Regions from separate parts of the Homo sapiens genome. Here region 1 is linked to region 2. The links come from fine-mapping of genetic effects on gene expression. A gene starts in region 2. The other region holds a variant in brackets. All regions are shown on one strand. Distances are between the middles of the regions.

Region 1 (16,424 bases), 330 kb after region 2:
ATGGGGTCTCACTATGTTGCCCAAACTGGCCTCAAGCTCCTGGGCTCAAGCAATCCTCCACCTCAGCCTCCTGACTACCTGGGACTATGGGTGTCCCAATGTACCTGGCTTAGGCAATGATTTTTGAGTGGCCTATACAAAGACAGAAACACCTATTTCCATGATTCACAGCACCATGACATTCAAAACAAGCACAATGACTACTGATGCTGAAACAGACAAGTCCCTCCCTTCATTCTCCAATAATACCCTCGCATTTACTTAATATGTATCAAGTGCCTACTGTATGCTAGGCACTGTTCTTGGTGCTGGGAATATTGCACTCAAATGAAAAAAAATAAAAATAAAAATCCTTCCCTCAGGAGGATTTCAATCTAGTGGTATAGATAGAGACTAGATAAATAAATTAATTTTATTCCTGAAAAGTGCTATGTAATGTAAACAAAGCAAACAACACAGACGGGGAAGAACTGTGGGTATGACAGTATTTGTACATATTTGGCAGAAGGCAATATTAAATAAGGTGGCCGGGGAAGTGTGCACAGTAAACACAACAAGGACAATGGCATCACAGGGCGATGGCATCAGTCCAAGAGTACCTTGGGAAGAGCAATTCTGTGGATGAACCGCAGTGCAGGTGCACAGGCTTCTAATGGTCTCGCCTGGCAGACCTAGCGTCACCCCAGCTAGCCTGACCATAAGACTCACCTGAACAGTTCATTAAATACACAGGTTCCTGAAGGTTATGGTGAACTTGCAACTGGTAGGAAATGTCCATATGGAAGAGCCCAGAATCACAGTCCACACACAAAGCTGATCCCTCCCTACCCTCCACCAGGCCCTGTACTCCCCAGTTCATAGAGGCCAGAAATCTATGTTGTTAACAAGAATCCCTGGCAAGTCTCATTGGGCAAGGTTAGGGAATACTGGCTTAGTGAAGAATGATGGCTTGCACATCTATAGTGAAGTATTACAAAAACCTCGCACTGTACTGTCTCCCAATCAAACCAGCCAAACTCTCCACTCTGGCCAGATGGTTCTCAATCTCGACTGCACATGGAATAACCTAAGGAGCTTTAAAAACACTGACGCTAAACACATAGATCAATGGAAGAGAATTGAGAGTCAAGAAATAAACCACACAGTTATGGCTAATTTCCTCAATGAGGAAAGCATAATCATTGCAACAAATGATGCTGGAACAACTGGATATCCACAGGTGAAAGAATGAAGCTGGGCCCCTTCCTCACATCACACACAAAACTTAACCCAAAAGAGATCAAAGTCATAGCTGTAAGAGCTAAAACTATAAAGTTCACTAAAGAAAATACAGGAGTAAATATTCATTACCTTGGGCTAGGCAACGGTTTCTTAACCATTTCTTAAATACAACACCAAAAGGATGGCAATAAGAGACAAAATAAATAAATTGGACTTCATCAAAATTAAAATACTTTGTGCATCAAAGTGCACCATCAAGAAAGTAAAAAAACAACCTACAGGATTGGAGAAAAGATCTGCAAGTCATATATCTGATAAAGGTCAGGCATCTCAACTATATAAACAACTCTTACAACTCAATAATAAAAAGACAAATAACCTAATTAAACGATGGGAGAGTACAGGCATGGTACCTCACACCTGTAATCCCAACAGTTTGGGAGGCCAAGGCAGGCAAATTGCTTGGGGCCTGGAATTCAAGACCAGTCTATTACGACCCCCATCTCTACAAAAAAATTGTTTTAAAATTAGCCAGGCATGATGGCAGGAGCCTGTAGTCCTAGCTACTCGAGCTATGATTGCACCACTGCACTCCCACCTGGGCAACAGAGTAAGACTCACTGAAAAAAAAAAAAAAAAAAAGTGGGAGAGCTAAACGGATATTTCCTCACAAATATCCAATAAGGACATGAAAAGATGCTCAACATCACTGGTTATTAGGGAAGTGAAAATCAAAACCACTGTGAAATATCACTTCATATCCAATAGGATGGCTATAATAAAAAGACATACAATAACAAAAGTGTGGGTGAGGAGGCAGAACCACTAGAACCCTCATACACTGCTGGTGGGAATGTAAAACGGTACAGCCGCTGTGGAAAACAACCTGGCAGTTCCTCAAAATGTTAACCGGGGAGTTACCATAGGATACGGTAATTCTACTCTTAGGAATATGTACAAGAGAAATGAAAACATACACCCACACAAAAACTTGCACGCAAATATTCATAATGGCATTATTCACAAGAGTCAAAACGTAGAAGCAACCCAAATGTCTACCAACTGATGAATGCATAAAATGTGGTATATCCATTCAATGGAAGATTTTTTTTTTTCTGCCATAAAAAAGGAACAAAGCACTGATACGTGCTACATCAATGAACCCTGAAAACATTATGCTAAGTGAAAGAATCCAGTCACAAAGGACCAGATAGTGTATGATTCTATCTACACAATATGAAAAAGCCACAACAGGCAAATCTATCACAGAGGCAGAAAGGAGATTCGTGGTTGCCTGGGGCTGGGGAGAGTGGGAAGAATGGGAGGCACTGTGAGCTGGCACAGGGTTTCTTTCTGGGGGTAGTAAAAATGTGCTAAAATTAGATTGTGGCTGTGGTTACACAAGTCTGTGAATACACTAAAAAACCTTTAAACTGTGTACTTAAAATGGGTAAATTGTGTCATATGTGAATTGGTTCTCAATAAAGCTTTTTAAAATAAAGAAATCAATACATATTTGCCATGCTATAAAACAACTGATCCTGGTTCTCACCCCTACTCGGTGTATACCAAACTACATATAAAGCCTGCCTTGATGAATTTCCCTCCCATCCCCATCCCTCTGTGCTAAGAGCACTGATCTAGTTAAAGGAAGGAAACAGCTACATGGAGAAAAGGGGGCCTGAACAATTCCTGACCCTGTGGCTGAAGTGACCAGCGCATCAGGGGCTAAGAGATGAAACATTAACAACCCTAGAGGGCAGGAGTTCTGGTCAGTGCTGGATGCTCATAGAAAAATCCCCCAATTCCTTGCTTTCCTTCCACCTAGGAATGTGCAACTTCATCTCGACCTTTAAAATAACATCCCATTTGTCAACTTTTCTATGAAGTCTTTCCTAGCCCATAAACCCTACCCCAAACGATCTTTCCCACCCCTCCAGGTTTCCATAGCATTCTCTGCTCATGGTGTCTAATTAAATGCTTATGTATCACTGTCCCCTTCCCCATCATTAAATTATTTAAGTACCTCAACAGCAATGCTTTTCTCCAACACTGAACCCGTTATTCAAACAAGGTACTGTATAAGGTTCTCAGTAAAGAGGCACTGAATAGAATTTAGCCTCAGTAAAGAGGCTCTTCTCCATCACTGAACCCGTTATTCAAACAAGGCACTGTAAAGGTTCTCAGTAAAGAGGCACTGGATAGAATTTAGGAGTTGGGGTAATTTTGAGAAACAATTTTCAACATTCTTGGCAATTAAGGGAAGTCAGCTTTCCCTGCTGGCTTTCCTGTCTTACTAACCAATTAAATTTCTGTTGTCGTTGTTGCTTTCTATCCATCCCACCATCTCCCCCATCCTGTCCTAGGGAAAAAAGAAAACACAGCAAACCACAGATAAACAGTCCACATCTGTGGGCAAAGCTTCCAGCTGGCGGCAACCTGGAAAAAGCCAGCCATCTCACCCACTCTGCATCTGAAGGAGAAAACAGATTGGTCTCTCCTTTGCTGCTGCCTCAAACTAACACAGGCCTGGGGCATGCTCTGCTCCCAGGATGTCACCCAGCCTACTTCACTCTGAATCACTCAACTGTGCTTGAAAAACCAGACACCCTCCCCAGCTGGCAGAATTTCTACGGGCCCTCAGCTTGCTTCTGATCTCTTGGAGAAGGATGGGAGGAACACAGGCTCAAGTGTGCAGGCCTGTGTATTTGCAAGTTTGGGGTATTTGTAGCCTTTGGAACAGTTAGAAAAAGCAAAGTTAGTTCCACTTTTTACATAATGTTCTGCCAACTCCTCAGCCTGTCCAAGGAAGACTGTGTAAGAGACTAGATTAAGGTACATTTCAGAATCTTTCCCCCACCTCTAGCCCCATTCTCCCTATGTCTCTGGCAGCTGGGATATTGAAGAGCAAAAATGCTCACAACCTGAAAAAAAACCACAGACAATATTAAATCCCAGCAAACAGCCTCCTTAAGAAAACGAAAAGCAAATGAAGAGTAAGCTCGTCCTGTATCTACATGCACTTGAACAAAGTCTTGTCCAGTGCTGATCCACGTCCTGCTCCACAGCCCAACAGCTCTCCACAGCAGCAGCTGCACTGAGGCACCGCCTCTTGAGTTCATATTTCCCTGCCCCTCTCTTCCACAGCACTACACTGGAGATTCACACTTCCTAGACACAACCACACAGCCACACACCCAGGGCAAAGAGACCCACCGCTCACCGAGAGCAGCTCTGCCCCTCAATGAGTAACCACCCACACAGCGCAAATAGCAGCTTTTCAGAAGAACCATTCTAGGCAGTAGGGGCTCTATGCAACTCCTGTGTAAAGGATTTTAACACCTAACATAGAGAATGATTATCTGCAGTGAGGCTTTTTTTTTCCCCGGGACAAAATGATTTTCAGAAAACAAAAAGCAACTGACTTTTCTACGAAAGCCTCTAGTCCATCTGACAAGCAGGTTTCAGAGAATTCTGGAGCACAGAGATAACTTTTCCTATTTTTTTTTTTTTTTTTTTTTGAGACGGAGTCTTGCTCTGTCACCCAGGCTGGGGTGCAATGGTGCGATCTCAGCTAACTGCAACCTCTGCCTCCCAGGTTCAAGTGATTCTCCTGCCTCAGCCTCCCGAGTAGCTGGGATTAGAGACATGTGCCACCACGCCCGGCTAATTTTGTATTTTTAGTAGAGACGGGGTTTCACATGTTGGCCAGGCTGGTCTTGAACTCCTGACCTCGTGATCTACCCGCCTCGGCCTCCCAAAGTGCTGGGATTACAGGTGTGAGCCACCGCACCCGGCCTTCCTATGTATTTTCAAAAGGTGAGTTGTTCCCACTGCCACTGCTGGTCAACAGGAAAGGCCATGAGGCTTGTGGTCATGGGTCCGTTGAATCCCAACTGACCAGGATTTGACAGGCTGCCAGATCCCACCCTTAAACACAGCCCCTCCCACCAGACCCCTCTTTTGAAGCATGTGAGAGATTGGGGTGAAGGCAATCATGGGGTGAGCCCTCTCTCTGGCAGCCCCCACAGGCACAAACCACAACAGAGGGTCCTGCGTCCTCCTCCACTAAGCCACCTGGTTACTATGCCACTGGATATGGGACAGAGCTGGGGGTACCTACATCTCAGGTGTAAGGACATGCTCTGGAAGTTGAGGGAAAAGATCTGGAGATAAGAAAAGGATCTGCTCAATGGAGTCCCTATAGTCATTACATGGCAGCTTTTAAATATACTGCTGATGCTTTTTCTGCTGAATAGAGGCTTTTCCAAAGACAAGCTGACCTCTGCTCCAAATGAAATTACTACATTCAGTTACTGAGGCAGCAGGAAACAGAGAACTAGGCTAGCTGCACTGTCAGGAGATGGGGTCCCAGGCCCAGTTCAGACAGGATCTCACCATAAGCAGGTCAGTGACCTCTTTTTTATCTGAGAAGGAAGGCTATCACTTGCTTTTACCATACACCAATTATGTTCTAGGGCTCAAACATCAGGTGACAGGGCTTTACAGAATTTAAACGCTTCACAAAACTAAGACATAGTGGTACTGTGCAAGCTCATGGAATGCAGTGAGGCCACTGACCCCAAGTAGAGGCAGGCTTGGCCGGCAGTTCCCAGTTTCCCCACTGGTTTCCTCATTGGTTCTTCAGAGGGCTGAGCTTTAGGCTGAGTGGGCTAGGAAGCCCCACTCAGTTGGTGTTTAACAAGGACAGTGTCCTCTAGCTCCTCAGCACTTCCACAGTCATGGAAAAAGGTCATTAACTAAAGTTAGAAAAAAAAAAGTCACGGTTTATTTTAGATTTCCAACTAAAGATAGAAAGAGATCATTTTACAGCAGAATTTGAAACGAGGACTTTGCTGAAAAGATGTAGCATGGCATCCTGCCTCAGGCAAGGTGCTTGGAGTCCAGCGATATGGATGGAATCCCAGCTCTTACATAAGAGCACAATGGGTTGGCCGGGCACGGTGGCTCACGTCTGTAATCCCAGCACTTTGGGAGGCCGAAGCATGTGGATCACCAGGTCAGGAGATCGAGATCATCCTGGCTAACACGATGAAACCCCGTCTCTACTAAAAATACAAAAAATTAGCCGGGCATGGTGGCGGGCGCCTGTAGTCCCAGCTACTCAGGAGGCTGAGGCAGGAGAATGGCACGAACCTGGGAGGTAGAGCTTGCAGTGAGCTGAGATCGCGCCACTGCACTCAGCCTGGGCGACAGAGGAGACTCCGTCTCAAAAAAAAAAAAAAAAAGAGCACAGTGGGTAAGGGAAGCAGTGACTGGAGGAGACTGTCCAGGTCTGAACCCCACTTACTGTCTGTGTGACCCTGGGCACGTAACTTGACCTCGCTGTGCCTCAATCCCATCACCTGTAAGACGGTGCACATGATAGTACTTGCCTTTTTTGCCCTTATGAAGTTATGATGAAAACCAGATAAGTTATTATGTCTGAGTGCTTAAAACAACATCTTGCACACAGTAAACACGGTGTTGTTTAAATAAACATCTACCTTACAGAATTCTTAGGATCAATAAGATGTGTGTAGTTTGCTCAGTAATGTGACTAGGGGAAGTCAGTCATAAAAATAATAACTAGAAATTAAAATTTTTTAATCCATAATTTAAAATTAATGGATATAGATTTATAGGTAGCTGGGCAGACCACTTACAGATGACTTAAACCCTAAAATCACCCAAAGCAAGTTTACTAGGCCTCCTGGGGTTCAAAGTGACCTGACCGGGCTACTCTAGCCACACTGCCTCTGGGGTAGTCCTGCTCCTCAAGGAGCAGTTAAAAAAAAAAAAAAGTGACCTGACCAAGGGACTGGACTGCAGCAGGGTGAAGGGGTGTCCAGGCAGGAACCACAGCACCCAGCACTGACAGCTCCTCAGGCACGTTGCCAGGAGCACTAAGCATCTGACTTAATCTAAGCTTCGTTCCATCTCCACAAGTCCAGGACTTCAGGACCACGCACCTTATCTACAAATGACACCAAGGCTCCAAGATGCTAAATACCATTTCCACGGTCTCCTGGTAGCGCGTGGTAGAGCCTTAAGTCCAGATAGGCTGGACTCCAAGACTTGTGCACTGGCAGAATGCAGAGAGCTCTGGTAACTGCAGTCTCATTCCACAAATAATTTCTGAAAGTGCTAATTAAGATGCATCTTAATTTTTGCTATTTTTCTTGCTGTTAATCCAAAAGTATAAATCCTCCCTCCCTAAACTGTAAAATTAAGCTTGTTGAATGGAGGGTGCAACTACTGTCACTAACTGTAAGCCACCTAAAACTCAACAAATTTAACAGAAATAGAATCTTCATATACCAGTGATTATCCAACAGTATTTTATTCTACTGAAAAAAAATCTCTTGGGCCTTTCTAAAAGAGTTTCACATTGGCCGGACTTGGTGGCTCAGGCCTGCAATCCCAGCACTTTGGGAGGCCAAGGCGGGTGGACCACGAGGTCAGGAGATCGAGACCATCCTGGCTAACATGGTGAAACCCCGTCTCTACTAAAAATACAAAAAATTAGCCAGGCACGGTGGCGGGTGCCTGTAGTCCCAGCTACTCGGGAGGCTGAGGTAGGAGAATGGCGTTGAACCCGGGAGGCGGAGCTTGCAGTGGGCGGAGATTGCGCCTCTGCCCTCTAGCCTGGGCGACAGAGCGAAACTCTGTCTCAAAAAAAAAAAAAGAGTTTCACACATACAGACTTACTTTCTCAAGTAGCACAGAAAACCACCAACAGCAATCCCAATGCTCTTTACATAGACATTTAAAAAGCTGTTTTATACACACGAAAAACAGGTCCAAACTGCTTGAAGAAATGCTTTTTTTTTTTTAAACCAAGGAAGGTCTTGCTTCTGGTTTTCTTTAGAAATCTGAGGTTTCACAAAACAGGTTTCTATGACTTTAACTACACATAAAAATAAATGTGTTAGTTTGGTCTCCAAAGCTCTTGAATCCATTAGAATAAACTATTCCCCCACCATGATGGTCCTCACCGTGGATTTCATCCCTTTTTTATCCTCAACTGTACTCACAAATACAATGTTAACTTTGCCTGCTGCATCCTGCCTTTGCCCTTCATCTCTTTGTGCTGCTGGAGCTGTCCATAGTGATTAGGGGCAGAAAGAGTATGAAACAGATCCAGCTTTCTTGAAAATAGACTCCCTTACCTGTCTTTATGCTAGCTTACCAAAAAGAACGGAGGCTTCCCTTTCCCACCCTGGCAGACCCGTCTGCACAAAGCTCTGGGAGGCAGCAGAATATCTCTAAGCCCCAGCCTCAAGATACATCATCTTACAATTTGTGCTACTCCTTTAAAGCTCCATTCAGAGCAGGACACTGTTTTCACAGGAGAGGAAGTCATTTTATGCAAGTTTTCTGGAAGAAAAGACACTACAATTAATGTTTGGTGAGAAGATGTGTTGAAGAGGACACAGGAACTTTCAAAAATGTCCAGTCATATCTTGAGCATCTCTGCAAAGCTTGAAAACATCATACAGGTCCTGGAGCCAAATTGAAAAATCTCCAAAAGCAAAAGAAAAAAAGTGTCACGAAAAAAAACA[T/G]ATATGTATTCCATTTTCACAGAATGTTCTGCCAAACCCCATGCCCCAGGACCACACACATTCAAGACAACACCCCATACCTCATACCGTGTGTGCAAGCAGGACTTCCCCAGGCCTGAAGCAAGGGCTGGGAAACGGCAGCTACGAGCCCAGCTACAAAGCCGGTGGGGCCACAGTGGCCACACAGCTGGCAGCCGCCTCCAGTGAGCTCTCTACAGGAAGCGAGTCTCTGTACCTAGGGTGCCATTCTTCCAGCCCTCATCTCCTCTCCAAGTACTTAACTACCAAGTCTATTTTAGCATTGTTTACTACTGATGTTACCACGCCATTTAGGATTACTCAATTTTAGGTATCCTGTCCTACGAAATACTTTTACACAAGCTATCAGGAGATAATGTGGTCCTTACCAGTTTCCTGCTTATCAGTCTTCCCTCTCTGCTAACAGAATGTATTCTCTTCCATTTTCCTGTTCTAAAAAAACCTCCCACCACGAATTCCAAAAAAAAAAAAAAAAAGAAAAAAAAAAGCCTCCATAAGAATTTATTTCAAGCTCCTGGTTTTCATGCCCCCAACGCCATGGCCCAAGGGTGCATAGCCCCACCGCAGTCCTCAACCCTTTCTCAATGTGATGGCACCACCATTCTTCAGTTATCACAGTACTGTACCTTTCAGATATACAGCATCGGTACCATGATAACCGAAAAAGGACAGTTCAGTCTCATATCTACCTGAATATTCCCTGCCACCCAGCTCACCAACCTCAGATGGGCCATATGATGATCTCCAAGTATGCAAGCACGTGAAAACACACACACACAATGTCAGTACTCAAATAGGCTGTTTTCCGCAACCTCATTTACTATCAATAGGAAATGCTTCTTTCACAGTGTCATTTATAATTCAAGTCTTCTGACACTGTTCTTTTTGAAGAGTGCTTGCTTTTACACCACAGCAGTCAACTTCTGCTAACATTCAACAATCCAAACTCACTTCTACAATTCCCTACTAGTCCAGTAGCATTAATACAAACTCTGTCTTTTGTCATCTTTCCCAGTGAGCTCATATCCTATCATCTTAGACAAAAAGCCTGTTTTCCCACAGCAAGTTAGACAGCTAAGGAAAAGAATGATTAAAAAAAAACTAGTAATAAAATCCAAGCTACACCAAACCAGGAGTTTACCTCTAACCTGGAAACAAAATCTAAAGCACGAACAAAATAACTGCCCAATAGAGATCATGCAATTTCAGTTACCTGGGATTAAGGAAGGAAAGAAATGCAAAAATCCTTGTATGTAAAAATAAACACCAGGTTAAGAGTGACAACTGCTGGCTGATTTGAGGATAAACACAAGCAGGTGTTCATAGTGCAGGCTCTGTGCAGCACAACACCCTTTGTCATTTTGGGCAATGAGAAAATTACACTGGACAGAATAACGAGGTTGAAAAAGAATAACTTACGTGTAGGGAGAGAGAGGGCCTAGCAGGACTTTGGAAACATCCTGCTGTCCAAGGGTCATGAGTAGTAGCGCCAGGCTTTGGTTGGTCGAGTCTACGCATCCACCCTGTAAACACAAATTAATAATTGTACAAACCAGAAAATGGAAAGCCAACAAAAGAGAGGAGGAAAAAAAAAACCAGAAACATACACTCATAATATCAAAATCCAAAGTTCAAGCAACAATAAAACAGAATACAGGTCTTATAAGAGTAATCATTGTATCAACTAACTGTAGAGGGTTAAACTAACAGTTAATTAGAGCAACTGTAATAGTTGAGACTATCAGAATGAGACTATCAGATTCAAATCTTCTTAAGTGAATCTAGTAAAAAAAAAAAAAAATGAAACTTTCCCTTTATCATTAAAGCAGCAGCAGGAGGACATCATCTTTATTGAGTATATGCAAAAAAAAAAAAATCTTAATCAGTTCTAGAAGATGTAGAGTTAATTCCAAGGGTTAAGTGGATGACGCTCATATTTATTGAATCTGTCACAGAACAACACAGTCTATCTGACATGAAACGGCCTTTTCATGGCCTTACTTTTACACTTATTCAAATACATTCAGGAAACTGCTTGCCATACTCTATTAACTTCTCTCCTTTATCTCTTCCTGAGTTCCTTAAAACTGAAGACTTGTTAAGGTTAGATCCCTTTATTCTTACTACTTATGTATAAAATTATGCCTTCCACCCCCTTTTCCTTCCCTTTCTTCCAAATTAACAAGCAGAACAGACTTCTCTTCAAACACTTTCTCCTGAGGTACAACTGCTTAGGTTGCCTTTCTTCTTTTGTTTTTCATTTTCTCAGCCATTTTAACTGTTTTGCCTCCACTAGACGCATACATAAGCATACAAACACGCTTTCTGATCATTCTTTCTGGAATAACTTTAAAACATATTGTACATAGTCAAAGAAGGATGACCTTGAATTTCTACATATTTTGCACAGGTCAAAATTAGAAATCCAGTCTGACCAAGGCACGTTACTATCCAAGGCTAGACTGAACAGGATAGGTGGCCAGCAGTGTGGTTCATATGGCTACAACTGCCCCTGCCTCCTTTTTAAGGCATGTAGGGTAGGAAATAAATCCATTTTCAGATACAGACACTCTGAAATTCTCTGGCTGTCAGATATCATTTAGTAGCCCTAATAATGGTGAAGGAAATAAGGATTGATCTTACTGCTAGCCTTTATGAAAATCTATTGCACGTCCCTAAACTACCTTAGTTAATAAAGGACAGAAAACAACATTTAGATCACATAGCAAATTCTAGGACAAGGAGAGTTCCTTTTCCTTTTCTACCCAAAAAGAAAAACCTGACCCATGGAAAATATGACGACCAACAAAACTGTTTTATAGATCTTGCTCCCTTTCATAAGACAGCCTAAAATTAAAGTGTTCTCTTCAGTCTCTGCTTCCTATCACTGTTGTTATTTCACCATTCACTGGACCAGTATTTTAATGTAATAGATAGCTAAGGTCCCTGTACAGGACATCATGGAGGAAGTGGTAGGGGCTATCACCCTACCTATGCTGGGGGGAGGTGTCACCTGCCAGATACCTGAGGAGGGCTTTAGGACTCAGGACTACTTGAGCCAGCCCTTGAGAGATGAGCAGGGTTTGGGGAGGAAGGAAGAACAGAATGATGGGGAAAAATAAAATGCCAGGGCCAGCAAGGAATGGCCAGGTGACCAGCCTGGAAGGCACCACTGCTGCCTGTGGAGAAGCACATACAGCACAGAGAAGGTGGGTAGCCCAATTAAGGCAAGCCTTTCCGAAATGGGTCGAGAATTCTGACTTTGTCCCAGGAAAGTGAGAAGCCAGTGAAGGTCTCTGTGCACATGAGTGAAGAGATCAGATCAGTATTTTAGCCTGAAAAGGATGTTAGGATTTGGAAAGAACTTCTCTGCTAGAAATGCAGAGAGCCAGTGGCCATAATCCAGTTGTGGAGTGGAGCAGGGAGGCAGGCAGTGATTAGAGCAGTGAAAAGGATGGAAAGAAAAGGCAGTTCCAGAAAGCCTGGGACAGAATCAAGAAGGCTTGGTAACCGATGAGGCATAAATGGAACAGGGGGGATTAGATCAGAGGCTTAAAACTTGATAAATAGCACCTTCAAAAGGGATGGATTTTTTACCACTCATTCAATCCATGTCACATCACAACTCTACAGAAAATTATTCAGAAAAACATGAAGTATTTCCATCCTTTTAATAATTAAAGATCATAGACATAAAAAGGAAGTTTTCTGAATAACTAAAAGAAAACGAAAGAAATTTGGTCCAGGCACAATGGAAGACTGAAAGTAGATCTCAACTAAAGAAAAAAAATTGCCAGGCACAGTGGCTCACGTCTGTAATCCCAGCACTTTGGGAGGCCGAGGCGGGTGGAACACCTGAGGTCAGGAGTTCGAGACCAGCCTGACCAACATGGAGAAACCCTATCTCTACTAAAAATACAAAATTAGCCAGGCGTGGTGGCACATGCCTCCAGCTACATGGGAGGCTAAGGCAGGAAGATCACTTGAACCCAGAAGGCAGAGGTTGCAGTGAGCCAAGATCACGTCACTGCACTCCAGCCTGGGAAAGAGTGAGACTCTTCCTCAAAAAAAAAAAGAAAAATATTAAAGAACCTAATTTAAACTGCATGTTTTTCCTCTTGTGGAGTGGTAGGTGCTTTTACCCTGAGGCTTATAGCCTGCTATTTATAGGGATATAAACCCCACACTCTAGCTGTGCCCATAGGCTCCTACTGGACTACTGTATAATGTGATGCTTCTAATTCTCCCAAGGTCTATTAGAAAGACATGGAAGTGTCCCCATAGTTAGAGAGAAGGCCACTACAGGACCAGCCACGGCCAGACACTACAGGACCAGGAAAAGAAATCCTGCACAACAAGAGACCCAGGGAAACACATTGCATGCACTGTTTCCCGCCCCCCTACAAATAAGTAGACCACAAACTTCGTGAATTAAGTAACTGGCAGGGCAACCTCTTGATCATCTACCCCAAACTTTTAGTTACTACCCATTTTTCACAAAATTATTAAATTTAGCATAAAAAAGTAAACTGATTTAGCACCAAAACATCTGAGGCCAGATCGTGACTGCACAAGACTTGTCAAAGAATACCTCCTCCTTCAGGAAGATTTCATCTCCTTCTTCTACTATTTCCCAGGTGAATGCCGAGTAGAGGGGCTGGAGCTACTCTCCTGAAAATAAAACTATAGGTCCACTGTCTTCCATTTTTAATTAGATGGTCATTAAATAGAGCCATTTAGGACCTGGAAATTTAATTAATTCTGAAACAGCTCATTCTCATGTGTTCCATCTTGGACCAATGAGACATTTTCAAGAACACTGACTTGGATCAAGGGAGTAGACTATAAATATAAGCTGTTTTCCACTGTGAGGCTGGTCTGAGGATCAATACCTATGGCTAGTCAGGCTTTACCCTACCACCCTGATTAATAAACTGAACCAGTGGCAAAAGGAAGAATTAAAAGAAAAACTAAATTGCCACTTTACCTGTTTTACTGATTTTATTTAACTTGGCTCAGATGTGATTTTTGCTACCATAAACGAGAAAACTTACTTGGAGACCAGAAAGATGCCTGACAACTGAGAAGAAATACACAGAACAATACAAAGAAAGAAGTCTCTTCAGCTCCTTAGGGGAAGAAGAGAGATGATTTACAAACATTATACACCATACAACAGCAAATCAACTAGAGTATAGTTCTTGCTGATGCTCAGTTCAAGAATCTGGGACCTAACACACAGAGCAGAGAAACGACCATCCTTCAGAGCCTTTCCTGGACTCTGCATGTCAGAGAAAAGGTTTCACCTTCTTGATGTGGGACCAAGGCAAAAGACGGTGCAGACTAACAGAAATCTTGGACCCAGATTTGTGACCCTCTTCTAACCAAGTATAGGGGATCTCAGGGAATATATCTTTTAGGAAACTGTATCTTATTCTTTCTGCCATCATCTTTCCAAATTTCTCCCTTACTTTAGGTCACCTCACCTATTTTGAGGAAACAGTAAAAGTGTGTGCATGCATATGTGCCCGTTGCAATGAAAGGATCAACAGAGAAAGACTGTGGCAACTGAGAGGGCAAATTGGTCTCAGCTGTGTCCCACCAGCAGACCTGCAGAAGCAAAATGACAACTGGTTGAGTCTGTCTTCAACATCAGTTTACCCCTTCTCTGTTCCATGTTCTTAGGTTTTCCAAAGCTTCTGCTATGCTGTGCCACAGGCCTGCCTTCCCTAGTTATTCTGTGCTTTTTTAAATTTTTTTCTTCTTTTCTAATACTTATCTGTTAACTGAGATTCTGTGCTCTAGAATGCATTGCAAAATCTAGCCTGTTGCTATTGTTTTATATATGAATCAACTGTCACATACAAATCCAGATTTCTAGCTTCTCTTAAAAGATCTAAAAAGAATGAGTCCATCTTCCCACATGGCAGCAATCGGGGGGTGCCGGGATGGTACTCTCTTTGGCTAGGGCAGTGTGTCAGCCACCACCTTACCTTACCTGCTTCCTTTTTTTAACCTTCCCTTTCCTTTATGACTGTTCCAGTTCTTTCCTTGGCTCACTGTTAAAACTTACCTGCCCTGTGTCTCAACCCAGTGGGGCTAGATCTCTACTCACTGACTGGTTGAGCTAATCAATTAAACTAGTTAAGGCTGAACTGCTTAATGCACAGGAACAGATTATCTCCTTGGCTTGAGCCCTTGGAAGAGGACGAAAGCTGCCAAGAGATGAGAATGAGAAAACAAACTGCTTCCTGGTCACTCCTCTATCAGAGGAAGCTGTGGACATACCCTGTAGATTTCCTCCAGCAGCAGCCGGGCACAGTTCCTGCCAAGGTCCTCTGGAAGTACTGCTGCTCCCTGGCCCTGGGGGTTGGAGGCCAGTTCAGCACTGAGGAAGGTGCCACTGGTGGTCTCAGCAACCAGTGACAACCCAAAGCCCGGAGACCTGGAGATACAAAGGCACAAACACTGAGTAGGTTTAACCAAGTGAGGTTTCCACTCACCAGCAAACGGAAAGAGAAGACAAACATTTTTTTTGACGGCACTGTGTTCAAAGGCTTCTTTCTGGCTGCATTAACCTCATAGAGTTGCTACTAGTTTACTAGCTGACCAGAAAAGAAAATCAGTCCAAAAACAAGCATCTCTCCACAAAATTTTAAGATTTGACAGCTCAATTCTACTTTCCCAATGACTGTTAAGTAGACACATCAACAGGAAAGGTGTGGCGGCCTTCCCAGCAGTACAATCCGTATGCAACCACAACACAGACCTGCCCCCTTTAACACAACTCAACACACGCTCACACAATACTTTCTATGTGTCTGGCAGGAGACTAGCCAAAATACTTGTTTCACTAAAACTATGTATAAAATTAATGTTTCGAATGCACTATATGAGCTCACTATATAGAAGAACTATGTTAGTCAGTCCTTAGATTCTTAAGGAAAAAAAAAATTTGCTTGTCTATGCAGTCGAAGGTTAACAACACCTGCCAAGGAAAGGGGGTGCAGTGAGTTACCCATTTCATCAAAGGTTCTGGGAGGCACTCTGAGTTATGCTTAACAATCTAACACTGTGCTATCCACCTATCATCATGGGACACCTAGAGAATTTTAGCATAATCCCAAATTGCCTTTGAGTCACCTGACCAGCAGAAGTGAGAGGGTGTCCAGCAGTGGCTGCAGGCAGTGGCATACAAAAGTGAAGATTAGAAGATGAAGGGGAGAGAAAGCAAGACAAGGTGCCACTGCTGCTTTACCCATTTACCTGCATTTCCCAAGAATTTCCATCTGTGTGAGTTTTCTAAGGTGTATTTGTCATTACGATAAACTTTATATTTAATCAGAATTATTCCATTTAACACAATTTAAGTAACTTTAGAAAAGACAAAGAATATATATTAGGTTCTATGTAAATTACTCTAATTTTTCTTCCCAACTTGTGGGAAATATGTGTTATCAGGCCTATTTCAAGTTAGGCTGACCAAGCTGCTGGTCATCAGGTGACCTCATTAGAGATATGCACTGGTATAGTTTGCAAAGGCCAGCCTCCACAGCTTTCCTTGGTAAAGGACCCAATTAAGAAAAAAAAAAATTACTG
Region 2 (16,424 bases):
CAAACACTGCAATATTTTACTTCATTGGAAGTGGGAGGGTTTGGGGCTTAGTGAAATATTATTTGAAAGCAAGCTGAACTGACAATAAATATATTCAGATTTTTGTGCCCAAATGAACTCAACTGTTTCTCTAGTAAGGTTTTTTATGCTTTTAAATAAATATATAATCATAGAGATAACTGAATAAATAACTCATTTTTTGTCTCAGAAAGAACTAGCGAGGAAATGGATTCAAGTCTACCATTTTAGAATTTACAGAACATTTACGTAAGTAAAACAAACCATGAAATAATATGAGCATTTCTTAGAGTTGGTAAAACATCATGGTATCATTTTTAAATTTAGTCAGTTTCTTCAACCTCTGTATCCATACATATTAGCTAGCCTTTACAGAGAAAATGCACTTTAGAAAAAATTTACTTTAGAAAAAGTAAATTGCTTCAATCAAATGTCTGTAAACAGAATTATAGGAGACTAACATAGAAGTTCCTATATTCCAAAGTTCCATACATGGTCAATCATAACCAAGGCTCTAAGGTTTATCATGTCCTCTCTTAGTCCCTCCTGGAGAGCTTCTTCTCATTGAGAGAGCAGAGAACGACAGAATGTAACTGTTTGGGGAGAAAGCCAACATGTTTTAAGAGTTGTGCTTTCATGGTGGAACCTTTGTTGCTCATTGTAACTCTTGCATTCAGACTTACTTATCTGCAGTACACAGCTCACTGTCCATTCCAGAACACATTTTCTCCAAGTTCGTCCTTAACTGATAACACTGAGGGCTGTCACTATTATCTACTATCTACTGAAGTAGTTGCCTCAGTCTGCACCAGTACATACTCCTACTACTAGCCTATCTTTCTCTCCATTTTTCCCTCTAGTTTCCCAGATGTGTCATGACCCCTACCTTTCTTATTCCCAAAGACTGTTTTTGCGCAACAGGTATCAATTTTAAGGCACAGTCTCTCACGTGCAGAAAATATCCACCTTTCTTCTTTACTAAATCAATAGCAATCCCAATTCTGTTACTTAGTAGAGAATTCAACATCAGACATTGTTCTAATGGGGACACCCATGAAGGTGTGCACTGAACCCAGGGTCTTAGCGCCAAAGCACTAAGATCCTTGGGCTGCACTGTCCTCAATGGCTACCGCTGCAACACTCAGTGCAATCCCACATGGTCCTCTCACCTCTGTACTTGTGTCCCTCACTGGGGACAGAAAGAATGCTGACAAGGATCATATCTCTTCCCTTGGATAGGGAAGTTTCAACCTCAGGGTAATTTAAGGAAATAATCATATTATCTCCCTTCTGTTTCTTTTTCTGTGTCTGTCTCTGTATTTCACTCTCTCTCTGGCTCAAGTCCTATCAGGGTTACTTGTATAACTTTTTATATGTCTTTGGGCATTTATAAACAATTGGAAGTGCAGCTTTAGGCATCTCCTTTCTAGCATAGCCCTTCAAAAGTAAGCTAGACGGGCAAAAACCAAGGCCCAGGCAGCCTGCTTGAACTGGGCTGGGGAATGGAAATGTGAGACGGAATAATACAGTATCATGCCAAGCCAGGATAACATCTCAAGAAATTATCCTAACACACACACTGATCACTAACCTTTTCAGCCTTTCCTTCTCCCTGGCATTAGTCCAGATGTGAGGGAAAAATGATAATAGATGAAGTTTCATAATTTTACTAGTATATATAATTTTAAATCTCTTAACCAAGAAATGTTCAAAGCTTTGCTTCCTGGAGGACATTTGGAAGATATAAATTTCCCTTTATTCTTAGTTTTAATATTCTTTATAAATCAGTGTGACAATTGAAGTAAAAGGACAGACTCCTAGAATAGCTCTAAGGCCCTACTGTGAGATTCCCAGGGTGGATGTAACGAAGAACCTAAACTGGTTTAAAACAAAAGAATTTTTTTTTCTCATGGTTCTGAATGCTGCAAGCTAAAATCCAGGTGTTGGCAGTGCCAATGTTGTTCTGAAACCTTTGGGGAGCATCCTCTTTTCTTCTTCCTAACTTCACATGGATTGCTGCTGCTTTTTGGCATTCCTTGGTTGTAGCTGCAGCTCTTCAATGTTGTCCCTCTTGACACATGGTGCTCTCTGTTCCTTTGTCTTCACATTATCTTTGTGTAAGGATATCCATCCTGCTGAATATAGGGCCCAGCTCCAGAGGGACCTCATTCTAACTAACTACATCTACAGCCACGCTAGGGTCTATAAAGGTCCCATTCTGAAATACAGGTATTTATGGTTTCAGTGGATCACTTCGGGGACACAATTCAATGCATAACAGAGCCTGGAGAAATCCAGACAGGACAGTCAGGGTGGTGAAGAATACGCTCATTTACCTCTCTTCCCTCCCTTGATACACAGAAATAAAAATAAACCACTCTTCTGAGAAGACACAGAGGCAAAATTTTCTCCTGGGACTACAAAATGGTACAGCCACCCCAGAAAATATTTTGGTGACTTTTTAAGAAAAACTAAACATGTAACCATGCAACCATCTTACAAACCAGAGATTATATTCTTGAACATTTTCCCAGAAATTTAAAATTAATATTTACATAAATTCTGCACATGAATGTTTATATAGGCTGATTTGTAATCGCCAAACACTGCAACTACACAAAATGTTCTTTATGCATGTTAGTTACACAAACTGTGGTATATCCACACCATTGAATAAGATTCAACAATAAAAACAGCCAACTAGTGACAAGTGCATCAAGCCACATGACTATCCAGAGATCAGGCTGAGTTTTTTCACTAACTCCAGAAAGTTACATGCTTATGATTTCATTTCTAAAACATTCACAAAATGATAAAATTTAAAAATGGAAAATCTTTTTTTTCAAAATTTAAGGAGTGGGTTAGGGCGCAGGTTGGAAGTTGGTATGACTTTAAGGAATCCTTATGGTGGTGGAACAGATTTATATCATGACTGTTCAACTGTCAATATCCTCATTTTGATACATGCTGTAGTTTCATAGCTGTTACCTTTTGGCAAAACTGGAAAGGGTCTAGTAATTATTTATTACATTGGCATGTGTGAATCTGTAATTATCACAAAATTTAAAATTTAATTTGTTAAAAACCAGAAACTTCAGTTTTAGAAGTTGTTAGGGATTCGATGTAAATTGTTTCCTGTTGTCAAGTCAGGAAAAACAGTGAGGAATTCACAGAAAATATGAAGTTGTTAGTAAGAAATTGATCATGAAATTTAAAAAGTGGCAGATATGATCATAAATCAAAATGAGTTTCTCTAAGAACCTCTGACTGGATGAAGTGGAGACTGGAAGATGGTACAGATAGAAGGCTATGAGGAAGGGAATTCAGAAAAGAGCTTCAGAACCTCAGAGACCATCAGCTACCTGGGATAAAGCCAGCAAGAGTGCTGTCTGAAATACTGATTGCAATCCAAAAGGATGAGGACAATGCCCAGTAAAGTTAATGCTAGAACAAGACAAACATGCTGCCCCAGAAGTAAAAGGCAGCTTCCCAGATCGAGCCTGTCCCTGGCCCATGTCCCTCATCCCTTCCTCTGCAAAGTTATAATTCAAGATGATATTTGGGTGGGGACACAGAGCCAAACCATATCAGCACTAATAAGTAGGTACACCTTAAGTAGGTAGAAAAAGAACAAGCCAGAAGAAGGAAGAATAAAAAATGAAGATTACAATGGAGCTAAATAAAACAGAAGATAGGCAAATTCCTTGAACCCAGGAGCAGCCAAGATGGCGGAACAGAAACAGCTTCACTCTGCAGCTCTTACCTAGGAGGATGAAAATGGAGAGTGAATTCTGCATTGTCAATTGAGGTACCAAGATTCTCTCACTGGGACTGGCTAGGTAGTTGGTGCGACCCACGGAGAGTGAGAAAAAGCAAGGTAGAGAGAGGGCCCACCTGGGAGCTGCATGGGGCAAAGGGAACTCCCTCCCCCAGCCATCTGGGGCAGTGATGGATTGTGCTACCCTACCCTGAAAACCACACTTTTGCCATGGATCAATGCAACCTGCAGATCAGGAGGTCCCCTTGTGAGTCCATGCCACGAGGGACTTGGATCACAAGCACAAAGCTGTACAGACTCATGATGGTGGCTGGGGTGGGTGGCCACTAGAGCAGGCACTGAGACACAGGAATATTTGCATACTTCAGCTTTGGAAACTCCCGCGATGCAGGAGATCCACCCACTCCCATGGGAAGGGAGCTGAAGCCAGGGATCCACGAGGTCTTGCTCCCACGGAACCCCACAAGCTAAAACCTACTGGCTTAGAATCCTCTCTGGCCAGCACGGCAGGCTACAGACTGCCTAAAAAGACTGAGTTCGTGGGAGTGAGGGGGTGCTGCCATCACTATGGCTGCAGTCCACAGTTTTCCCATGCCACTGGTGCCAACGAGACTCAGCAGTCTGAATTGGGAGCAATTCCCCAGAGTGCAGCACAGCTGCTGGGTCAGTTTGTAGCCAGACTGCTTCTTTAAGCAGGATCCTGATCCACTCCTCCTCACCAGGCAGGGGCCCCCGCTATGGGAATCTCAGCATCCCCAGCCAGGGGTTCATGGACAGAACTCTGATATCCCTGAGAGGAGCCCCTGGGAGGAGAAGTGGCTGTGGTATTGTGGATCAGCCATCTTAGTCTTTTCTGCCTGCTGGCTCTGAAGAGTAAGGGCAGCCCAGACAAGGGGGATTCCCACCAGTGCAGCACATCCACCCTGCCAAGGGGCAGCTAGATTGCTTATTTAAGTGGGTCCCTAATCCTGGTCATCTTTTGAAAGAACCAACTTTAGTTTTGTTAAACTTTTCTATTGTTTTGCTAGCCTCTATTTTTAAAATTTTTTTGTTGGACTTTCGTTATTTTCTTCTTTCTGCTAAGCTTGGGCTTACTTTGTTCTTCTAGTTCCTTGAAATACAATGTTAAGTTGTTTATTTGAGATCTTTTTTGACATAGGTGCTTATTACTATAAACTTCTCTCTCAGCACTGTGTTTGCTGCATACCATAAATTTTGGTATGTTGTGTTTCCATTTTGGAGTTTTTGAGATGGAGTCTCACTCTGTCACACAGGCTGGAGTGCAGTGATGCCCTCTCAGCTCACTGCAACCTCCGCTTCCCAGGTTCAAGCCATTCTCCTGCCTCAGCCTCCTGAGCAGCAGGGATTACAGGTGCCTGCCACCACACCTGACTAATTTTTCGTATTTTTAGTAGAGACAGGGTTTCACCATGTTGGCCAGGCTGGTCTTGAGCTCTTGGCCTCAAGTGATCCACTCACCTCAGCCTCCCAAAGTGCTGGGATTACAGGCATGAGCCACTGAGCCCAGCCTGTCTCAAGATATTTTTTAAACTCCCTTTATATTTCTTCTTTGACCCACTGGTAGTTAGGAACATGTTCTTTAATTTCCACATATTTGTGAGTTTTCAAAAGTTCCTCCTTTTATTGATTTCTACTTTCATTCCATTGTGGCCAGAAAAGATATTTGATATTATTTTATTCTTCTAAATTTATTAGGACTTGCTTTGTAGCATAACATATGATCTATTCTGGTGAATGTTCTCTGTGCATTTTAGAAGAATGCGTATTCTGTTGCTGTTGGATGGAATGTCCCATAAATATCTGTTAGCTCCACTTGTTCCAAAGTATAGTTCAAGTCTTTTGATGAGTCTCTTGTGGGCAGTATATAGTTGAGTCTTTTTTTTTTTATCCATTCAGCCCTGTTTTTTGATCAAAGAACATAATCCATTTACATTCAAAGTAGTTATTGATGGGTTAGAATTTACTACTGCATTTTGTTAATTGTTTAGTGGTTATTTTGTAGATCCTTTGTTCTTTTCTTTTTCTCTTGTTCTCTTTGTGATTAGATGATATCCTGTAGTGGTATGCTTGATTTCTTCTTTTTTATCTTTTATATATCTACTATAGGTTTTGCCTTGTGGTTACCACAAGGCTTACATTCATCTCAGTATGATTAATATTTTCCGTTCTCAAAAACCTTACCTGATAAAGTTCTGACTAGGACTCATGGCCCACTATAGTTTGGACATAAGTTATTTTTTAAGGAAGGTGATTAAATTTTACTAATCTATATTATATCAACCATTTAAAAAATCCAATTGGCAGTTAATTTAACAGCATTCATGGATGCCACTGGGAAGCAGGGAAAAGATAGGGAAACGGAAAATTAAGAAAAAGACATAGAGTCAGAAGACAGAAAAGAAAGGGAGAAAAAAATAAAATTGTATAGGGAAATGGTGAGATCACTGATAAGCTTGCACCTGTGGCTTCAGCATCCTGAACCTTATTCCTGAGACAGCCACCGAATGCCCTCTTGTGGCCGATAGTACATCCTTCCACGCCAACACACTAGTAACACAGAACTTCATTTAAAATGATAAAGCTACCTATGCCGATTGCGCTTCGCTTCCCTGCCCCTTCCCTCCTAACTGAGCAAAATTATCTCACCTAAATGAGCATTTCATGCTGCATGCTGTTATTCTTACAAGGCAAATCCTCTAGGGGTCCCTGTCACAAGTTAATTTGGTAATACACAATCCTCTACATTATCTAACCGAAAGAACCAGATTTCCATCCCAGGTACCTCAAGACAGCGTCCCTACTTCTTTTTTCTGGAGATTGAGGCTAAGGCCCATGCCTCCCTGTGAACCAGTAGGATTTTTCTGAAGAAGCTTTGAACCTGACTAAACGCACATGGCCATATGCAACACTTAAACGTTTCACCACATATTTGATTGCCAGCTAAATGCCAGATCCCGGGGTACGATGGAAAGCAAGAACAGACGCAGGCCCTTGCCTTCATGAAGCGGGGGTCTCAGGAAAGAGGTTACACGCCCACAAATGGAAACAGGTCGATTAACACCGTGAAAGAGATGACAGGGGGTTTCTGTGAGGGAGACGAAGCTTTATTAACAACCTGGCAAACAAGAACGAGAAACGCATTCCAGGTGGAGGGAGCAACACTTTTTAACCTACGTTATCAGGTAACAGGGATCCTATGTTCTCACGCTTGGTGAGGAATCTCCCATTGAGGAAGGAAAGAAAAATGAATCAAACTAGGGGGTGGCGGGGTAGTGAGGGGATTTTTGGCTTTCATTTTAGGAGCCAGGGCCTGCTACCTTCGACCACCTGAGACCCCTGAGCTGGCGGGAAAGCCTTGACGCAGCCGGCGCGCGCCTTCCCTTGAAGTTCTGGCGACGCCCCCACGCGCTCGGAATTCCGCAGTGTTTGTGCGCGCCGCTCGGCCTGGCGCAGGCGCAGACAGGGAGCAGGGTCCGGCCGACCGCCATTGCACAACGCGGAGGACTAGCCTGGGGTCACAGGGATGCCGCGGCTCCTCCGCTTGTCCCTGCTGTGGCTTGGACTCCTGCTGGTTCGGTTTTCTCGTGAACTGAGCGACATCAGCAGTGCCAGGAAGCTGTGCGGCAGGTACTTGGTGAAAGAAATAGAAAAACTCTGCGGCCATGCCAACTGGAGCCAGTTCCGTTTCGAGGAGGAAACCCCTTTCTCACGGTTGATTGCACAGGCCTCGGAGAAGGTCGAAGCCTACAGCCCATACCAGTTCGAAAGCCCGCAAACCGCTTCCCCGGCCCGGGGAAGAGGCACAAACCCAGGTAAAAATCGAAACCGAAGGCATGTTTGTTCACCTCTGTATATTTCTTATTCCTGCATTTGCTCTGCCAGAAGGTGAGCTTCCCCAGGAAGTGGAATTTGTGCCTAGTACACAGCTCTTTAAAAAATTGTAAAAAACAGTGTATTGAAAATATACAAAACTTCAATGAAGCGCTTTTTTTTTTAACTTGGAGGAAATAAATGTACACTTGTAAGTCTACATATTTATGTAAGAATGTTGTTCTTTTCTGGAGTGCCAGTCATCTGGCAAACTCCTTTTTGTCCTTCAAAGCCCAACTTAAGTATCATTTTCCCTGTGAAGTCATCATTGACCTTTTCATGGCCAATGGCTCCATTGTCCTTTCTACCACAGTATCTAGCACATAGTTGTATTTGACTGTCGTCATTGGCTACAGAATCAGCCCAACCTTGTAGAAGATAAAAATGCAGAGTACCTTGTTCAAAAAAGCAGGAAAGGGCCATGAAAATAAAGGTAGTAAAATATAAAACTGTTTTCCTTACTTGTCCATATCCCCTGGTCACGTACCAGGAGATAGGCCTGGTCCGTTCTCCTATCAGGCTTCATTTAAGAGTTTACGTACTTGTATTTCATTCACTTAAAGTTTCAAAGGTAAATTTATTCAGAACAACAAAGGAACATTTAAACCAAATGCAAGGCCTGTGTGACTACATAGGTTTCAGTCCCATAAAGTCAGCCCTATATACCATACTGTATTATAGGGACTATTTCATGCATATTTTTGTCTGAAATGCTTAGCAGATGGCCTAGCACATCGCATGTGTTTAATATGCGCTGAATTTATACTTGATGCTTTCAAGCAGTCTGCAGGAAGGATATTCTTGTTCCAGATTCATTGGTATATCTTACTATGTTTTTACATTTTGTGACTAAGACATTTTAGTCCCAGTATGATTTGTCATTTTAAAAGAAATTGCACTTTGTTTATAGTGTATCCATAGGAAGAAGATTACTGCCTTTTACAGTAATTCAGTTGATTTGATTTGGACAAATCTTGTAAAAGTGAAGATTTCTGAAATTAAGGAAATGAGTAAACTATCATGCCAAAAAGAGACCCTAATGTAGAGGACTGAAAAAAGTCAAACAATGCACATTGTAGGCACTCATTAGCTTTTTTGGAATGAATGAATAGAATTTATAAAGTCACTGTTGCTGAAAGAATAAAAACTTTTAAAGACAGAAACCATGAGACTGATTCATGATCATTTTCAAACCGACCCATCAAACTAACCCACATACAAACCTCACCTTGTCCTTCTGTTATAATGAAGGAAGTGTCTCTCCCCAGTCTTCTACTTTTACTTTAGTTCAGTGACTCTCACGCTTTAATGTGCATATGAATCATTTGGGAATCCTGTTAATTTACCGACTCTGAGTTAGTAGACCTGGGGTGGGGCCTGATATTTTTCGTTTTTAACTAGCTCCCAGGTGCTGCTAGTTCGTGGCCCACACTTTTGAGTAACAAGGTCCAGTTTACTGTCTGTCTCTCTCTTTTTTTTTTCTTTTAAACTCCTCTTTCTTGTTCTTTTCTCCCAGGAGTGCAAGGAGAGCCTTCCCTTTCTGCTTTATGTTGGGTGGGCATTTCTCTCACATCAAATACTGTGCTTTCACTACCTATGCTATAATACTGTAGTCAAAATTTTATTTTTAGACCTCCAAGCTTGAGGCTGTTATTTAAAGAGAGGTTGGAATGCCTTTTCTCAACAAAGTGCTCTAAAGACAGTTTTCTTAATAAAAATGTTCAACCTTAAAACTCAGCTTGTTAATGATCCTTTTGTTTTAAGTATTATTCACACTCCCCTGGAAGAATAAATGTCATTAATAATGAGCAGGAAGCTGCAATGAAACAAGACTTGTAGAAAATAAAAATGTATCTGAAAATATTTGAAAATTGTTATACCCACAAAACCTGCTACTATGGAAACTATGTAAAAGACAGTTTGCTGAAGTGGAAATACTATGTAACAGTAAAACCACAGTTGTATTGAAATATGTAGAGGAAGGAAAAATGGGTTAGGTTATCAACATGAATTGTATTATAATTTTAAAAATTATTAATCTATAAGGGAAGATGACATTTATTCTGTCCTGTTAATTTCTAGGAAATAATTTAGAAGTTGCAGAGATGTATATGTTTCTAATATAGAATACATAATTATGACATCATTTTTATATATGAATATGGCTGGAAAGTTGATTACTTTTTATTTCACTTTTACCAGCAGGACAAGTTGTTGTGTTAGATCAAGTCAGTTGTCTGAAATTTTAATATCCTGATGATCTACTTGAGTCTGACACAGAAAAATATAATTTGCTACGCTGCTATTAAAAAATGCTTTTTTTCAAAGCTACTTATACATATCTTGAATCTGTAATTGTGTGCTTCTTGTTAATGGACCCTGAAGGTGGAGGCAGTATCTCCAAGACCTACCCCGTAATGTGGCACCATGAAGTTGACATCATATTTCTAAATTACGACTGAGTATTGTGCTTCCGAGATATTAGTGCCAGGTGAAATCATTAATGTTTCAAAATCAGCTTTTCATAATCTGTAACCCCTATTCCAGTTAGATTAATCATATTCCCATATTCTTAGTCTTCATGTCACATATTCTTGTTTTTTTTGTTTCTTTATGTTTCAGATATCATCACAACTAGTCTGTAAAGGGCCCTTCTCTTTATATATTAGTTCAACAAAATTTGAGTACCTATCATGTGTTAGGCACTCTTCTTGGTGATTGGGATGTTAGAGTAAACGGTGAAGGCTCCTACCCTCATGAAGCCTACAGAATAGTAAAGATAGACAATTAACATAAGTAAATTATAATTTACAGAAGGTGATTATCCTCACTTAGCCCCTTTCTCCACTCCCATTCTCCTCCTCTCCTTGGCAATTGTTGTAATGTGTTTATTATATATTTTTTGTTTTTATAAGTTTTTGCAAATTATGCATTCTTTCCTGTTCATATGTTTTAAGATATATCTAAAAGGCATTTAAGATCTATATCTTATTGTTGCTATGTGAACATTTAGTCCATTGCTTCTAACTACTGCATAATACTCATGTGCATTCCTCACATTTTACTGATTTATTCAGTTTTGAACACCTAACCTATGTAGCCTTGAACTCCCTACCACTACAGATAACACTGCCATGAACATCATTGTATGTGTCCCCTTATGAACCTAGAAGTGTTTCTGGGATACACATCTAGAGTGGAATTGCTGTGTCATGAAGTATGTGTATGTTTAATTTGCCTGAGGAGTATCAGATTGCTCTTCAGAGTGACTACACCAATGTATAGTTGCACCACCAATCCTGTGTCCTCATATCTATGTCAACAATTAGCATTATACAGTTATTAACTTTTACCAGTGTAATAGATGTAAAATGACACTATATTTCTATTTTAACTTGCTCTGGGTCTGAACATCTTTTCATATACATGTTAACCTTTTGGATTTTCTCTTAAAATTTCCTGTTTATATATTTTGCCCAATTCTTGTTGGAATTGTTATCATTTTCCAGTTGGTTTATAGGAGTTAATCAAATCTAGATACAGTAACAACTAGTTGTTGGTTTTAGATGTCACAAATATGTTCTCCCATTTTGACATCTGTCTATTGCTGTTGCTTGACAGAAAGCCTTAACTTTTATATAATTAAGCAGTAAGTGTTTTGCCTTATGTATTAGAGGTCCTTTTCTGTCCTTCTGTTAACTTTTCAGTTTTACTTTTCACATTAAGTCCTTAATTATTAGGCTAATTTTTAGTTCTGGTCTCGGTAGGAATATTACCTCACTTTCTCAGTAAGTCTTTTTTTCTCTACATAGGGAGCTAGTTTTCTGAACACTTTCTACTAATCAATTATTTTTCTCACTAATTTGTGGGATAACCATTACTGATAAGTTTGAGCTTTCTATTTTATTTAATTGGTCATTTATTTGGCCTTTTATCGTTACTATTTTTGATACTGTGACTCTATAGGATGTCATTTATCTGGCAGGACAAGTCTTCAATGTTTATTTTTTCCCTTAGGATTGACTAACCTAAATCTTCAACCTTTATTCTTTCATATATATTTAAAAGTATGCTTATTGAATTTCTTTTTTAAAAGTCCACATGGAATTTTATTTGGGATGCGTGGAATATTATCAGGGGAACCCGCCCCCAATATTTCAATGTAGGTTCTATTTTCCATAAGTGTCCGCTGGCTGAGAAATAAAGAGTACAAAGAAAGGAATTTTACAGCTGGGCCGCCGGGGGTGACAGCACATATCAGTAGGACTCTAATGCTGGCCTGAGCCTCAAACCATCAAGTTTTTTGTTAAGAGTTTCAAAAGGGGAGGGGGTGTAAGAACAGGGAGTAGATCACATGCTTCAAAGTGCAAAGAGCAGAACTACTAATAAGGGTCTAACAAAGATGACATGCTTCTGAGGGAACAGGACAAATGGCAAAAGCAGAACTACTGATAAGGGTCCAATAAAGATCACAAGGGAAAGGGCAAAAGCAGAACTACTGATAAAGGTTTATGTTCAGTGGTGCATGTATTGTCTTGATAAACATCTTAAATAACAGAAAACAGGGTTTGAGAGCAGAGAACCAGTCTGACCACAAATTTACCAGGGTGGAGTTTTTCCCCACCCTAGTAAGCCTGAGGGTACTGCAGGAGACCAGGGCGTATATCAGTCCTTATGTCAACGACATAAGACAGACATTCCCGAAGCGGCTGTTTATAGACCTCCCTCCAGTAGTACATTCCTTTCCCAGGGTATTAATACTAATATTCCTTGCTAGGAAAAAGAATTTAGTGATATCTTCCCTACTTGCACATCCGTTTATAGCCTCTCTGCAAGAAGAAAAATATGGCTCTTTTTGCCCAACCCCGCAGGCAGTCAGACCTTACAGTTGTCTTCCCTTGTTCCCTAAAAATTGCTGTTATTCTGTTCTTTTTCAAGGTGCACTGATTTCATATTGTTCAAACACACGTTTTACAATCAATTTGTACAGTTAACACAATTATCACAGTGGTCCTGAGGTGACATACATCCTCAGCTTACGAAGATAACAGGATTAAGAGAGTAAAGACAGGCATAAGAAATTATAAAAGTATTATTTGGGAACTGATAAATGTCCATATTAAAATGAAATCTTCACAATTTATGTTCCTCTGCCATGGCTCCAGCCGGTCCCTCCGTTCAGGGTCCCTGACTTCCCACAACAGAATATATACACTAATTTGAAGAGGATTGACTTCTTTTTTTTGCTTCACCTTCTAAGTTCAGGAGTACATGTGCAGGATGTGCAGGTTTGTTACATAGATAAATGTGTGTCATGGTGGTTTGCTGCACAGATCATCCTATCACCTATGTATTAATCCCAGCATCCATTAGCTATTCCTCCTGATACTTTCCCTTCCCCCAGGGCCCCTGTCAGGCAGGCCCCAGTGTGTGTTTTCCCCTGCATGTGTCCATGTGTTCTCATCGTTCAGTTCACACTTACAAGTGAGAACATGTGGTGTTTGGTTTCTGTTCCTGCATTAGTTTGCTGAGAATGATGGTTTCCAACTCCATCCATGTCCCTGCAAAGGACATGATCTCATTCTTTTTTATAGCTGCATAGTATTCCATGGTGTATGTGTAGCAAGTTTTCTATATCCAGTTTATCATTGGTGGGCATTTAGGTTGATTCCATGTCTTTGCTATTGTGAATAGTGCTGCAATGAACATATGCTTGCATGTATCTTTATAACAGAATGATTTACATTCCTTTGGGTATACACCCAGTAATGGATTGCTGGGTCAAATGGTATTTCTGCCTCTAGGTCTTTGAGAAATCACCACACTGTCTTCCACAATGGTTGAACCCTACCAACAGTGTAAAAGTGTTCCTTTTTCTCCACAACCTTGCCAGCATCTGTTGTTTTTTAGCTTTAATAATAGCCATTCTGACTGGCATGAGATGGTATCTCATTGTAATCTTGATTTGCATTTCTCTAATGATCAGTGATGTTGAGCTATTTTTTGTTTGTTGGCCACATATATGTCTTCTTTTGAGAACTCTCTGTTCATGTCTTTTGCCCACTTTTTAATGGGGTTGTTTTTTTCTTGTAAATTTGTTTAAGTTACTTATAGATGCTGGATATTAGAGCTTTGTCAGATGGATAGATTGCAGAAATTTTCTCCCATTCTGTAGGTTGTCTGTTCACTCTCATGATTTTTTTTTTTTTTTGCTGTGCAGAAGCCCTTTAGTTTAATTAAATCCCGTTTGTCAGTTTTTGATTTTGTTGCAATTGCTTTTGGTGTTTTTGTTTTGAAATATTTGCCTGTGCCTGTGTCTTGAATGCTATTGCCTAGATTTTCTTCTAAGGTTTTTATGGTTTTGGGTTTTACATAAGTCTTTAATCCATCTTGAGTTAATTTTTGTGTAGAGTGTAAGGAAGGGGTCCAGTTTCAATTTTGAGCCTACAGCTAGCCAATTCTTCCAGCACCATTTAATAAATAGAGAATTCTTCCCTCATTGCTTGTTTTTGTCAGGTTTGTCCAAGATCGTATGGTTGTAGGTGTGTGGTGTGTGGTTTTATTTGAGTTCTCTATTCTGTTCCATTGGTCTATGTATCTGTTCTTGTACCAGTACCAAGCTGTTGTGGTTACTGTAGCCTTGTAGTATAGTTTGAAGTTGGGTAGTGTGATGTAGGAAACCACAGAGATGGTGGCTGCCCCTCCCCACAGGAACTTTGTTCCAGAGTGAGATCAGAGCTCTGTCTGTATAACTCTGGCTGGAGTGGCTGAAGCCTCCACATGGAGGTCCTGCCCAGTGAAGAGTAATGGATCAGTGTCCTGCTTAAAGAAGCAGTCTGGCCACAATCTGCCAAAGCAGCTGTACTGCCTTCTGGGGAACCCTTTCTCATGCCAACCAGCAAGCTGGAACAGCTGAGTAAAGGGAACCGTGGAGATGGCGGCAGCCCCTCCTCCCTAGGAGCTCAGTCCTAGGGAGAGATCACAGCTCTGTCCCTGTAACCCTGGCTGGAGTGGCTGAAGCCCCTACAAGGAGGTCTCACCCAGGGAGGAGGAATGGATTGGGGTCCCACTTAAAGCAGCAGTCTGAGCGTGGTGGCTCATGCCTGGAATCCTGGCACTTTGGGAGGCCAAGGCGGGTGGATCACTTGACATCAGGAGTTCAAGACCAGCTTGGGCAACATGGCAAACCCTGTCTCTACTAAAAATACAAAAATTAGCTAGGCATGGTGGCATGTGCCTGTAATCCCAGCTACTTGGGAGGCTGAGGCGGGAGAATCGCTTGAACCTGGGAGGTGGAGGTTACAGTGAGCCAAGATCACGCCACTGTACTCCAGCCTGGGTGACAGAGCGAGACTCCAACTCAAAAAAGAAAAAGAAGAAAAAGAAAGAAGCAGTCTGGCCACAGTCTGGCACAGCAGCTGTGCTGTGTTGTGGGGTACCTTCCTCCTCTGGACTGTTTGGATTCTCCAAAGCTGGGAGGCTGGAACAGCTGAGTTGACCTTTCCCAGAGATGGCGGCTGCCCCTCCTCCCAGGAACTCTGTCCCGTTTCAGGTGGACTCCAGCTTTTGCTTTGGGTGGCTGGAATTCCAAATCAGGTCTTAATTTGTGAGGTGCTGTGGAAGTGGGACGTGCAGAACAACTGCTTGGCTCCCTGGATTCAGCCCCCTTCCTTGGGATATGCACTGTCATATCTTCTGCCTTGCCAGGATCCCAGGGCCAGAATCTGTAAAACTCCTGGGCCTCATTGTGTGCCTGAGCGTTTGCTCTGCTGAGACTCCACACAGCTCTGTGTGTCGAACCCAAGGCCCTAGTGGCATGGGCTCACAATGGGATCTCCTGATCTGCAAAGATCTGGGATCAAAGATGGGATTTCCTGATCTGGGTTTCAGAGATCTCTGGGAGAAATGTGATTTCCCGGGCGGGGTGGCACAATCACTCACCACTTTCCTTGGCTGAGGGTGAGTTTCCTTTGGCTCCCTGCTGTTCCTTGGTAGGCCATTCATTGCTCCACCCTGCATTTCTTCTTTCTCTCTGGATCAAGTTGTTTGCCTAGTCAGTCCCAATGTGAGAACCTGGATATTTCAGTTGAAGGTGCTGAATTCACTCTTTTATTCCTCTCCCTGAGCGCCATGGATCACAGCTGCATCTAATTGGCCATCTTGTGCACCCAACTCCCCCCGACCCCATTGACCTCTTTATTACATAAAGTCATCCTAATCAAAGTCATGAAATTACTTATATTCTATTCTTATGATTTTAAAGTTTTCTTTATGGAAACTTTTACAGTATCATTGGTTAATTTCATGCTTAATACTTTTTTTTCTTTAGCTATTGTAAATACCTGTGAATTATATTTACTAGTTAGTGACTTGGCTAGAGAAATGCAACTTATTTTTATAGGTTGATCTTTATCCAGCAACCATGCTGAACTATCTTCATAGTTCTAATAGTTTGTTGATTCTATAGGTTTTTTATCACTTGAAAATGATAGTTATATCACTTTCTTGCTAAACTTATACCATTTTTTTTTTTTTTGCTTTGATTTCTTGTTTTGTTCCCAGGCTTAAAGGGCACGCATTTAAATATCTCCATTAGGTATGATGTTTGTAGGTTTATGCTATATAATCTTCATTAAGGTAAGGAAGCTTGCTAAGAGATTTTTTTTTAATCATCGTAAATAGGGCTGAACTTTATTAAGGTCTTCTTTTCGCATACTTTTGCTTAGTCTTATGATTT

Evidence for each region. PIP is the estimated chance that this variant, and not a neighbour inherited with it, causes the effect.
Region 1: its variant is fine-mapped to the expression of INSL6 in tibial nerve (GTEx, PIP 0.96).

The regions. Positions count from the first base shown.
Region 1 is chr9:4,843,371-4,859,794 of GRCh38, reverse strand. RCL1 (RNA terminal phosphate cyclase like 1) reads right to left here. Exons shown (of 9, transcript NM_005772.5): 7 at 15,114-15,270; 8 at 10,245-10,348. It overlaps MIR101-2 (microRNA 101-2), which reads right to left and starts at 9,498; the gene lies at 9,420-9,498. LOC124902113 (a long non-coding RNA gene) reads right to left here and starts at 9,428. Exons shown (of 2, transcript XR_007061402.1): 1 at 6,533-9,428; 2 at 2,720-5,981. The variant T/G (reference allele first, on the strand shown) is at 8,787.
Region 2 is chr9:5,176,519-5,192,942 of GRCh38, reverse strand. It overlaps INSL6 (insulin like 6), which reads left to right and starts at 7,304. Exons shown (of 2, transcript NM_007179.3): 1 at 7,304-7,629. The coding sequence starts at 7,341.